3 linked regions of the Homo sapiens genome follow. The protein of the gene in region 1 purifies or fractionates together with the protein of each later gene. This does not show direct contact. Each region holds a gene or a part of one and is shown in the gene's direction. Other genes may lie near its edges.

The links. Proteins that work in one complex are often made in the same cells at the same time.
Region 2: the proteins of KRT24 (region 1) and KPLCE fractionate together in Homo sapiens (co-fractionation; one large-scale study listed by BioGRID). This does not show direct contact.
Region 3: the proteins of KRT24 (region 1) and SERPINB12 fractionate together in Homo sapiens (co-fractionation; one large-scale study listed by BioGRID). This does not show direct contact.

What each region holds. Positions count from the first base shown.
Region 1 is NC_000017.11:40,696,788-40,701,805, reverse strand, and holds the end of KRT24 (keratin, type I cytoskeletal 24), read left to right. Parts: intron 1-509; coding exon 510-666; intron 667-1,422; coding exon 1,423-1,584; intron 1,585-1,682; coding exon 1,683-1,808; intron 1,809-2,144; coding exon 2,145-2,362; intron 2,363-3,155; coding exon 3,156-3,268; intron 3,269-3,465; coding exon 3,466-3,569; 3' UTR 3,570-3,815; downstream 3,816-5,018.
Region 2 is NC_000001.11:152,718,164-152,720,970, forward strand, and holds KPLCE (protein KPLCE), read left to right. Parts: upstream 1-1,358; coding exon 1,359-2,111; 3' UTR 2,112-2,307; downstream 2,308-2,807.
Region 3 is NC_000018.10:63,552,216-63,555,868, forward strand, and holds part of SERPINB12 (serpin B12), read left to right. Parts: intron 1-3,653. UniProt on the Homo sapiens protein: Inhibits trypsin and plasmin, but not thrombin, coagulation factor Xa, or urokinase-type plasminogen activator. May play a role in cell differentiation.

The sequences.
Region 1 (5,018 bases):
AAATTTTATTCCATTTTATAAATAAATATATATATATATATATATATATATATATATATATATATATATATATATATATATACTAGAGGATCATGACCTAAATTTACAAACATCCCAAGGGTAAACTTTAGACCATTAGACAAATCTCCACTGATGCTGGGGCAGGTAGATCCTCTCTGCTGAGCACCTAAGCCAGTAGCTACACACCGGCCGCTTCTGCTCCTTTCATCAGCCTACAACAGCTGCAAAAGAAAAAAGAAAAAGAAAAAAGAAAGAGGCAAATTTAGAATGAGAATTTTATTATTAAAAATGTTAGACATGATTAGAATTAACATTACATTGGTATTTTTCTTTACAAGGGAAAATTTCCCAAGAGAAAACTTAATAACCTTTATTTATTAAAATGCCCACAAGTGAGAACTTTTTCAATATGTAAGAATGGAAGGTACCCTTTGAAACACGGCCAGGTGAGCTCACAGTATTTTTTGCCTTACTGCTGCCCCTTCCAGGTATGAGAACGAGCTGTGTCTCCGGCAGAGCGTGGAGGCTGACATCAATGGCCTGCGGAAAGTCCTGGATGACCTGACTATGACCCGCTCTGACCTGGAGATGCAGATTGAGAGTTTCACCGAGGAGCTAGCCTACCTGAGGAAGAACCACGAGGAGGTAGGAACATGTTCTACATAAACGAATAACTCTAGCTAACATATTTCTCCCCATATGCATTCTATACAAATAAAATTGGCTGGGTGCAGTGGCTCATGCCTTTAGTCTCAGCTACTCTGGAGGCCGAGGCAGGGGGATCCCTTGAACCCAGGAGTTGGAGGCCACAGTGAGCTATGATCATGCCACTGGATTCCAGCCTGAGCAACAGAGAGATACTGTGTCTCTAAAAAAGTAAAATAGGCCTGGCACGGTGGCTTATGCCTGTAATCTCAGCACTCTGGGAGGCCAAGGCAGGCAGATCATGAGATCAGGATTTCGAGACCAGCCTGACCAACATGGTGAAACCCCCTCTCTACTAAAAATACAAAAATAAACAGGGCATGATGGCGCACACCTGTTGCACCTGTAATCCCAGCTACTCAGGAGGCTGAGGCAGGAGAATCACTTGAACTGGGGAGGCGGAGTTTGCAGTGAGCCGAGATCAAGCCACTGCACTCCAGCCTGGGTGACAGAGTGAGACTCCATCTCAAAAAGAAAAAAAAAGAAAAAAAGGTAAAATAAACTCATTTTTATCTAAGTGAATTTCCCACATACTATGACCAGGAAACAAAAGTAATCATGAGTAAATTATACCTAGATTTGATTTTTTTTTTTTCCTTTCAGTGTCCTACTTTCAAATTGTTGTTGTCTAGGCACATTTTCGGAAGTCATCACTTTTCTGTTTGCATCACGATAGTCTTTTTTCCTTCATGCTAGGAAATGAAGAATATGCAAGGAAGCTCTGGAGGGGAGGTGACCGTAGAAATGAATGCTGCGCCAGGGACCGACCTGACCAAATTACTGAATGACATGAGGGCGCAGTACGAGGAGCTGGCTGAGCAAAACCGCCGAGAGGCTGAGGAGCGGTTCAACAAGCAGGTAGATCCTCTCTGCTGAGCACCTAAGCCAGTAGCCACACACAAGCCGCTTCTGCTCCTTTCATCAGCCTACAACAGCTGCATTATGTTTGTATTTAGAGCGCATCACTACAAGCACAAATCTCCACTGATGCTGGGGCAGCCACTTCTGCCAAGAATGAGATAACAGAACTAAAACGTACCCTGCAAGCCCTGGAAATTGAGCTTCAGTCCCAACTGGCCATGGTATGTGCAAATAGCTTTTCACATTTTCCAACAGGGAGTTAAGCAAATGCAGTTTTCTTTCTTTGCCAAGAGGTTCACTAGGCACATAAAAAAGGCAGTGTTAAGGAGAACTGCATTATGATTATAGAAAGCATTAAAAGTTAAAGATAATGTACTCTATTTTGCATAAAAGATTTAGTTTAAAAAGAAGTGCCAACCAAAATTAAAGAAGCAATGATATAACAATATAGGTTATATGGCGAAGGTGCACTTCTAGTGCCACATAAAATTGCATTTTTAAAAAATCATCCAATGATTTATTTTCATCATGAATTTTTTATTTGCTTTTTCTCTTAGAAAAGCTCCCTGGAGGGAACCCTGGCTGACACAGAAGCTGGCTACGTGGCTCAGCTGTCAGAAATTCAAACGCAGATCAGTGCCCTGGAGGAGGAGATCTGCCAGATCTGGGGTGAGACTAAATGCCAGAACGCAGAGTACAAGCAATTGCTGGACATCAAGACACGCCTGGAGGTGGAGATCGAGACCTACCGCCGCCTGCTCGATGGAGAGGGAGGGTAAACCAAAGTCATGAACAAACTAAAATGCATACCTTAGTGAATTTATTTTATAAAACCAAAATGGGACTCAGGGCTTAGACTTGTATATATAGAGAGTAATAAAGTAACAGACACAGGCTGCGTGCAGTGGCTCAGGCCTGTAATCCCAGCACTTTGGGAGGCTGAGGTGGGAGAATCACGTGAGCCCAGGAGTTCAAGACCAGCTTGAGCAACATAGCAAAACCCCTTCCTCTTCAAAAAATAATTTTTAAAAAATTAGCTGGAGGCTGGGCACAGTGGCTCATGCCTGTAATCCCGGCACTTTGGGAGGCCAAGGCAGGCAGATCACGTGAGGTCAGGAGTTCGAGACCAGCCTGGCCAACATGGTGAAATCCTGTCTCTACTAAAAATACAAAAATTAGCCAGGCGTGGTGGCACACACCTGTAGTCCCAGCTACTCAGGGGACTGAGGCGGGAAGATCACTTGAGCTCAGGAGGCTGAGGCTGCAGTGAGCTGTAATCATGCCACTATACTCCAGCCTGGGTGATAGAACGAGACCTTGTCTCAAAAAAAAAAAAAAAAAAATTAGCTGGGCATGGTGGTGCACACCTATAATCCCAGATACTGGGGAGGCTGAGACAGGAGGATCACTTGAGCCCAGGAGTGCAAGGTTGAACAAAAAAGCAGCAGACACAATCCAATTAAAACACATAAACACATCCAAAACTTCATCATGAAGAATCCCCGGGGCGGAGGCTTTCTCCTGCCTTTGCAAACTGCAAAGGAAAACATAATTCTTTTTTTCTCCAGTGGTTCTAGTTTTGCAGAATTTGGTGGTAGAAACTCAGGATCTGTAAACATGGGATCCAGGGATCTGGTATCTGGTGACTCAAGATCTGGAAGCTGTTCTGGTCAAGGACGAGGTAGACTTTTTTTAATATTGATAATAGTTCTGTAATTTAAAAGTGAAGACATACTTTGCTTGTCATACTAAAAGAGTCCGCTATTTTTTACATAATCTTACCCAGACAGAACACGTTGAATGCATGTGATTGAATTTCTCTTGCTCTGTGTTTCTGTGAGAGTTTCCAGACTGACATTGCAATCCCATGATTTTCAGATTCAAGCAAGACTAGAGTGACTAAGACTATCGTAGAGGAGTTGGTGGATGGCAAGGTTGTCTCGTCTCAAGTCAGCAGTATTTCTGAGGTGAAAGTTAAATAAGGAACTTCCAGATCAACAAAAGTGTCTTTCAAAGAAAAAAAAATCAAGAAGGACACAAGCGAAGAAATGGCATCAATCTAGGCATCTTTCTGGATAATTTCAGGAAAAGCTTCAGTCCAGAAATGGATGACTAGCCAACTTTTCTGCATCTTCTTATTTCCTCATTAGAATGCTCTTGAAATAGCTGAATTAACAACTTTGCTTTAATTGTTTCTATGCTTCAATAAATTTACTTTTGCAAGTTAATTATTACTTATTTTTTTAAAAAGTATTTTACCTAGGAAGGAAGCTATCAAGTATGATCTAGCTGCATGACTATATTACTAATGTCAGTTCATTCTTTATATCTTACTGTTGTAACTGAGCGAGTTATAGAGAAATGACACACTCTGAGACTAATTCAGGAGTCCTTTTATTGCCGGCGAACAAGACGGCTAGAGCTCAAAATTCTCTCGGCCCCGAAGAAGGGGCTAGATTTCTTTTTATATCGTGGTCTAAATAGGGGAGAGGGAGTTTAGCTGAAGCAATTTTTACAGAAGCAGAACAGGCAAACCAATTAAGAAAGATTAATTGGTTACAGAAACAGTTACAGAAAAGTAAACAGTTCCAGGTGCAGGGGCTCAAACTATCACAAAGAGATAATGCAGGGGCTTTGGGTGCCATCCCCCAAGCGCGTCCTCAGGAACTGCTGATTTAGCTTGCCTCGATATCTCATCAGTAAGCGCATTCCTGGATGTGCTCGGAGTCAGCTTGCACTACTTATGCCTTTAAGGGAGGGGAGCTGCAAGTGAAGAAACAAAAATGGAGTCTGTCCGGCTCTCTCAGCTAAGAGAGACAATCAGGTTAAAACGAGGTAGGGTATCACATTACCTTCTTTATACAATTCAGATTATAGTCATTTTTTTAATGTGGGCATTTTTAATGGCATCACATAAGAACTCAGTGGCATGATAGCTGAAATTAGACTACCGTGTCAACGGCTTAGCCCACAAAGAAGGATGTGATTATTTTAATAATCAACTTATAATTAATGTCTAGTTTATATATGTCCATCACTGAACTCGATATTTTATAAGATAAAAAAGAAACTCAAAATCTCCCTCCTACTTCAAAAAGCTCACATTTCAGCAGAGAAGAAGAGCTAAAACACAAAGAAGACAGCAAGCAATAAAAAGCTGTTAATAGTAAAGACTTGATTTCACAATCTGCATCAGAAGTGACATAGGAATCAGACATGTGTGTTTACAGGACATTTAGGACAGGGGCCAAAAAAGAGTCTTGGGAAATAAGATTGGCTATGTGATATGGCAATCTGATTTCCTGAAACCTTGAAAGCCCCAAAGAGAAGAGATCCTCAGGCACTTGTTCCCCTGCCAAATCTAGCCACATCTTTAGCCAAAACCTGCCACTTCGCCAAGCTGGTGTTTCTTTTCCCCAGTCTCCACTGCT
Region 2 (2,807 bases), on another chromosome or scaffold:
CAAAAGCTACACTTAGCTTTAGATTAGATTCTCAATTTTAGTTTGATTCTCTGAGCTACACTTAGCTTTTGGCACAGTGTATGAAAAATTGAGAATCTAACTATAACTTGGATAAGTCCTGAAGACTCAAGTGACCTGGAAACAGCTTCATTAGAGACAGATCACATAGGCATCACTCATAACTTATAGGAAAAGGAGACTGACTTGTTTCCTGAGGAAGGGAACAGGAATCATTTATCTAGTGTTTGGGAAAACCCAATGTCAAGCACAGACATGCCCTGCCTCTGACTGAGGAGCCAGGCATACTGGGGAGGAATCTTGCCAATGCAACACCATCCCTTCTCCTTGTGATCTCTGGTGCTTCATTTAGATGCCATTAAATTGCCTCATTGCTGCCCTATAAAAGGTCTCCCCACCTGCTAGTTTTTCAGATCACTGACTTCTTCCAGTCTTGCTCCTATCAGCAAAGAGGGTAAGTCTCTATACGGGATAAGGACATGGTGAGAAACAGAGCTTTGGGGAAGCTGGGGTGGGATGAGAGCTGTGGGATGAAGGGTGAGCGAGGACTAGATGCTTAGGAAATCTGCTGAAGGAGGCTGAAAGCAATGCTGGTGGGAAACTTGGAGCCTGGGGCATGAGAGGAGAGGGAGGGGGACACGATGAGCTGGCATTCCTGTTTAAGAAGGGACTTTAGAGAACTGGCTCCCCATCCCCTTATCTGAATGCAATTGTGCAGTCCTCTCTTGGGTCTATGTGCTAATGAGGCCAACTGATTAGTCCAGCTGGTTCAAGGAGCACCTGGTAGAAACCTGCTCAAATTTAGCCTTGTTCTTTGCTCAGTACCGGGCACAGCTTGAGGCTCATGTTGGCTCAGGGTCCATGGACATAAATTTGTCTTTGCTGGGTATTCCTTGTCTGGGCAGAAGGAAGAAGGGAAGTCACCCTGGAGAGAACTGGTGGCAGGGGTCAATCATCTGGGAGCAGCAATTTCCAAAGGGTAATTCACAATGCAGACACTGAAGAAAGAGGAGAGGAGGCTTGGAGAGTTGGGTAGAAACACAGGCAGCACCATTTCAAGCCTCCATTTCCCAATATAGAGACTGAGGCCCAGAGGTAAGCGATGACTTGTACCAAGCCACATAGCCAGGTACAGGCACAGAAGCTGAGCTGAGAGTCCCTGGCTCTGAATCCACCTCCTGCCAAGTATACAGCCTCTGGATGTCTGCAACCTTCTCAAGAAAGCCTTGCTTGCAAATCACTGTATTCAAAGGGGATGTTGAAGGTTTCCCCTAGAAACCTTCCTGGTTTTACAGTTCTAATGAAACCTTTCTTTTCAGATTTTGCAAAGCCACAGAACAATGTGTGACCAGCAGAAGCAGCCACAGTTCCCTCCATCTTGTGTGAAAGGTTCGGGACTAGGGGCTGGGCAGGGTAGCAATGGTGCCTCTGTGAAATGCCCAGTTCCATGCCAGACCCAAACTGTCTGTGTGACAGGCCCTGCTCCATGCCCTACTCAAACTTATGTGAAGTACCAAGTTCCATGCCAGACTCAAACCTACGTGAAGTGCCCAGCTCCCTGCCAGAGGACCTATGTGAAATACCCAACACCCTGCCAAACCTATGTGAAGTGCCCAGCTCCCTGCCAGACAACCTATGTAAAATGCCCAACTCCCTGCCAAACCTACGTGAAGTGCCCAGCTCCCTGCCAGATGACCTACATCAAAAGTCCAGCTCCCTGCCAGACCCAGACGTGCTATGTCCAGGGTGCTTCTCCTTGCCAGAGCTATTATGTTCAAGCTCCTGCAAGTGGCTCAACCTCCCAGTACTGTGTCACTGACCCATGCTCTGCTCCCTGTTCCACCAGCTACTGCTGTCTGGCTCCCCGGACCTTCGGGGTGAGTCCCCTGAGACGCTGGATTCAGCGGCCCCAGAACTGCAACACAGGATCATCTGGCTGCTGTGAGAATTCGGGAAGCTCTGGATGCTGTGGTTCTGGGGGCTGTGGCTGCAGCTGTGGATGTGGCAGCTCTGGGTGCTGCTGTTTGGGAATTATCCCCATGAGGTCCCGAGGTCCTGCATGCTGTGACCATGAGGATGACTGCTGCTGCTAAACATACGACAGCTCAACTCCAGAATGCACTGCCCCGCTACCCCTTCTGGAACATGCACCAGCTTCTGGCCCCCTCTCTGTTAGTGCCAGTGATGTAGAACCTCATCACTTTGCCTCTGTGCTTTGCTTCTCTACCAAGGCAGCCTGCCAGAGTTAGTACAGTCCCCAAACTTTGGCATGAATAAAGCTCTGAATGCATTTCGTGGTAATTTCTGTCTGTTTGTTTGGTCCATATTTATGCTTTTCTATCAGGCACTCTTCTGCATCCCTCTCTTCTTACTCTTGTTTCTCAGCTAGAGGAAAGATCTGCACGAACATGAACAAGCAGACTGAGCTGGTGAAATCCCAGCCTGGGAGCCCCATGCCTTCTAGAATGCTGTGAATAAACTTTCCCACGCAAGTTAGAAGCATCTGAAAATGGAGATTTGAGGGTTGGGGCTGTTTCTGTGCTGCCCTTTGATGAGCCTCAGAGCAGGGTTGACCATGATGAGACCCTCATCTTCCTGGGTGTTGGAGAGATTGTGAAATTGTATCTGCTCATGGACCAGTATCACTGGTCATGGTCAGTATCACTGGACCATGTCTCCACCACTGTGCAGAGGGCTTGAACCCATGCAGGACTTTATGAATTACATTTTCTCATCTGACAGGCTTGCCCTGTTGAAACTATAGGTTGAAGGCCTGAGGGAAAAGGCTA
Region 3 (3,653 bases), on another chromosome or scaffold:
AATTCAGATACGACAAATGTAAGTTTCAAGCTTTAAGACCAGGAGGGTCAATTTCTATGTTTATTCAAAAAGACCATAAACTCATTTCTATGGAAAATTAGGCTGGTTTCAAAGGGATTTTTGATGAGAACAAGACAATTAATCTTAAATTTCTTTCTCTTTTCTTTTTAATTGCAACAACATAACATAACATGATTTTTACTAACAGTCTAAGCTTATTTTTAATAAATAAAAGCAATGTTAAAAAGCTTTAAAGTATTTTTAAAGTGTTATATTTTAAAATTGCCTATTTGAATCTGTGTTATTAGCATAATCAAATCTTAATGAGTGCTTCCTACAAAATACTCTTTTCCCTTTTCTATTTCATTTTGTAAATTAATATCTTACTCTTCTATGCGTCTTAAACTCTACTCCTGAATCTGCGAATGCATTATCTGCTCTGTTAGGTCATAGATTTCTCAAAGGCAGAGATTGTGTCTTGTTCAGTTCATCTTTTATATATAGTGACTAACCCAGTGGGAGAACTTCATAATTAGGTTGGTGTCAGATTTAGGCAGTTTCTAATTTAAAAAAACTGACTCACCCCCACCCCCCAAAATAACCAAGCAACCCTTCAGAAGGTGGTTAGCAGATGACATTTTAATCTAGTCATTAAATGTTCATTATTTGCTATGTTTTAGACTTGTATGTAAAGCCAGGAAAGATCTTCCTATTGTAAGGGCTTACATATAGTCATAAAACTTTAACAGCAACTGTCCAGCTGTTTTTTTTTCGTTGTTTTCTGTTACTATTGTTCTCTCAACTCCCTTGGGAGGTGAGGCAGCATTAAAGCTGCACACAACTGTAATGAAAGCTTAGAACCAGGTAACACTCAGAAAAGGGAATTGTTACTGGGGTGAGAGCATCACAGTACTCCTGGAAAGTAGTTCACAAAGTTTATAGAAGCTTGATGCAGAAACAGGCAGAGAGAGTTTTGGAGTGTTCTGTAGCCCACAGAGTGAGTAAGTGTAGTGCCAGAATTAGAATGGAATGGAATGTGAAAAACTGTGTGATCTAGGAGGAAGCAGCCCTAGGCATGAGGAAGTCTTAGCCTTGCTTTGCTTCTGGACAGCTGCATGATTGTTGCAAGTCACTTCGCCTCATTTGGCCTCAGTTTTTTTTATCTTGAGAAGTAGGGAGTTGGCCTGCATGAGTAGTCATGTCCTTTCTAAAGCAGGCAAGACTCTGATCATTCAGTTCTGGGAGTGCTCATGCTAGAAGGCAGAAGGGGTGAAGCCAAGTGATTAACTGGAACATTTGAAGAGCCAGGTTGGGATCATTCAGTCTTTCTAACCAACCCCTTCTTTTCCTTCAATATAGTCAGGCTCTTGTCTTCTTTTAATAGTGATGGCCAAATTGCCAGGATTCCCTTTACCTTCTCCTCCTTCGAGCTGAAGATTTTGATCAAACATTAACCTAAGTTATACAACAAAGGTTTTAAAAAATATTAGACTACATTTCACACAAAATTTTATCATTAATCGAAAGCCTGTGAAATCCCCCCAACTCAGACCATCTTTAATTTGTTGGTTTTCTTTTCTTTGTTAGTAGACTTGTTACTAGATGGGTAATGTGAGCTATGTGTAGAGAAAATCTGTTGGACATCAAGATGTTTACCAACATATGCAAAGGTAGCTTTCTGAGTTGTGAGGCATTATTGAATTTCCAGATACATCCAGGACATCCATTACTCAAAAAACACCCACCAATTAAGGCATAATGCTCCTGAAAACACTCTGGTGATCTATGATTACCCTGAAATTAGTTTGAAAATACAAAGTACGTCTCAAACCCAGTTCCCAGATGCAAGATAAGAACTGTGAGTTAGGTACAAACTTGGCAGAAAGAAAATGTAGCAATAAAATGGACTATAAGCTGAATAAGGGGGGAGAGTACCCACATACAGCAGGCATGTGTTTGATCACCTATCATCAGTTGAGGGGCAACTTAGAAACGATAGATACAGTAGAAAGATTACTTAGTTTGGGGCCAAATATATGTGCTATTTGATTATGCAGTTTTCTTTTCTGAAAAAGAAGGAATGATCATATCTACCTTGCAGAGTTGTAGGATTAAAGCTAACACATGTAAGATATTTGGCACATGTTAGACACATTTTTTAAAAAGTTACATAATGTTATCTTTTTGAATTAGGTTTTATAGGCTAAGAAAATCTATATTAACTGGGAAAGTGTTAAAACAAATTACACCATTCCATTCAATGCAGCAATATTTCTTCATGCTTATGGTGTGCTGTATCTGATGATAAAAGCACAAATAAGAGGATTTACATTTCTATCTTGGAAATACACAATATCTATAGGCAAAGAGACAAAAGAAAAGGCATTTCATTTGAAAGGCATAGGTCAGTGGTGAGATCTACATATTCTCTTGATACTCTGGAATAGATTGGGTGGGGAAGGCAAGATACCTGTTCTTAGGAAGTCACTATCTCACTCTGGTTCTATATTATCTGTAGTTCTACACTGTCAAAGAGGACATTGAACCTGGTGATATGGTTTGGCTCTGTGTCCCTACTCAAATCTCATCACACATTGTGATCCCCATAATCTCCACGTGTTGAGGGAGAGACCTGGTGGGAGGTGATTGGATCATGGAGGAAGTTTCCCCCATGCTGTTCTTGTGATAGTGAGTGAATTCTCATGAGATCTGATGGTTTTATAAGTGTTTGGCAGTTCCTCCTTTTCTCTCTCTCTCTCCTGCCGCCTAATGAAGAAGGTACTTGTTTCTCCTTCTCCTTCCGCCATGATTGTAAGTTTCCTGAGGCTTCCCCAGCCATGCGGAACTGTGAGTCAATTAAAACTCTTTCCTTTATAAATGACACAGTCTCTGGTATTCTTTGTAGCAGTGTGAAAATGGACTAGTACACCTGGTGACATCAAGACCCCCAGCATCATTCAAGATTTATTGTCTCTTGAACAATATGAATGACTGACTAAAGTGCCTCAAATTCTGTAGTTTGCATGTGGGATGAGTCAAAAGGGGGTGAGAATGTTAACAAGGCACATGACCCATGGGAATTTGCTGGGCATATCCTCAGTCACAGAGCAATGAGGGGAGAGTACAGGCAAAAGGTGTAAGCAGAACCAGCCACAATCTGTGGAGAAGAATGAGATGGGATGATGTTTGCTTGGCTGCTAACTTGATAATAAGAATGTTAGCCTTTGGCTTCATTTTACGTGAATACAGGGAGTTCCACCACAAAGTGGGTAGGATTATGTCCCCTAAAAATATAGTTTAAGTCCTAATCCTTCTACCTGTGAATATGACCTTGTTTGGAAATAGGGTCTTTGCAGATGTGGTCAAATTAAGATGAGGTTGTACTGGCTTAGGATGGGCTCTAATTCAGTGACTGCTGTCTTTAAAAGAAGAGGGAAATTTGGATACATACATGGACAATAAAGAGAAGGATGTGAAGATGGAGGCAGAGACTTGAGTGATTTGTCTACAAGTCAAGGAATGTCAAAGTTTGCTGGCAACCACCACAAGCTGAGAGAGAGGCATGAAACAGATTTTCCTTGAGAGTCTTGAAATGAACCAAATCTGCTGATATCTTGATTTTGGACGTTTGTCCCCCAGAACCATGGGAGAAT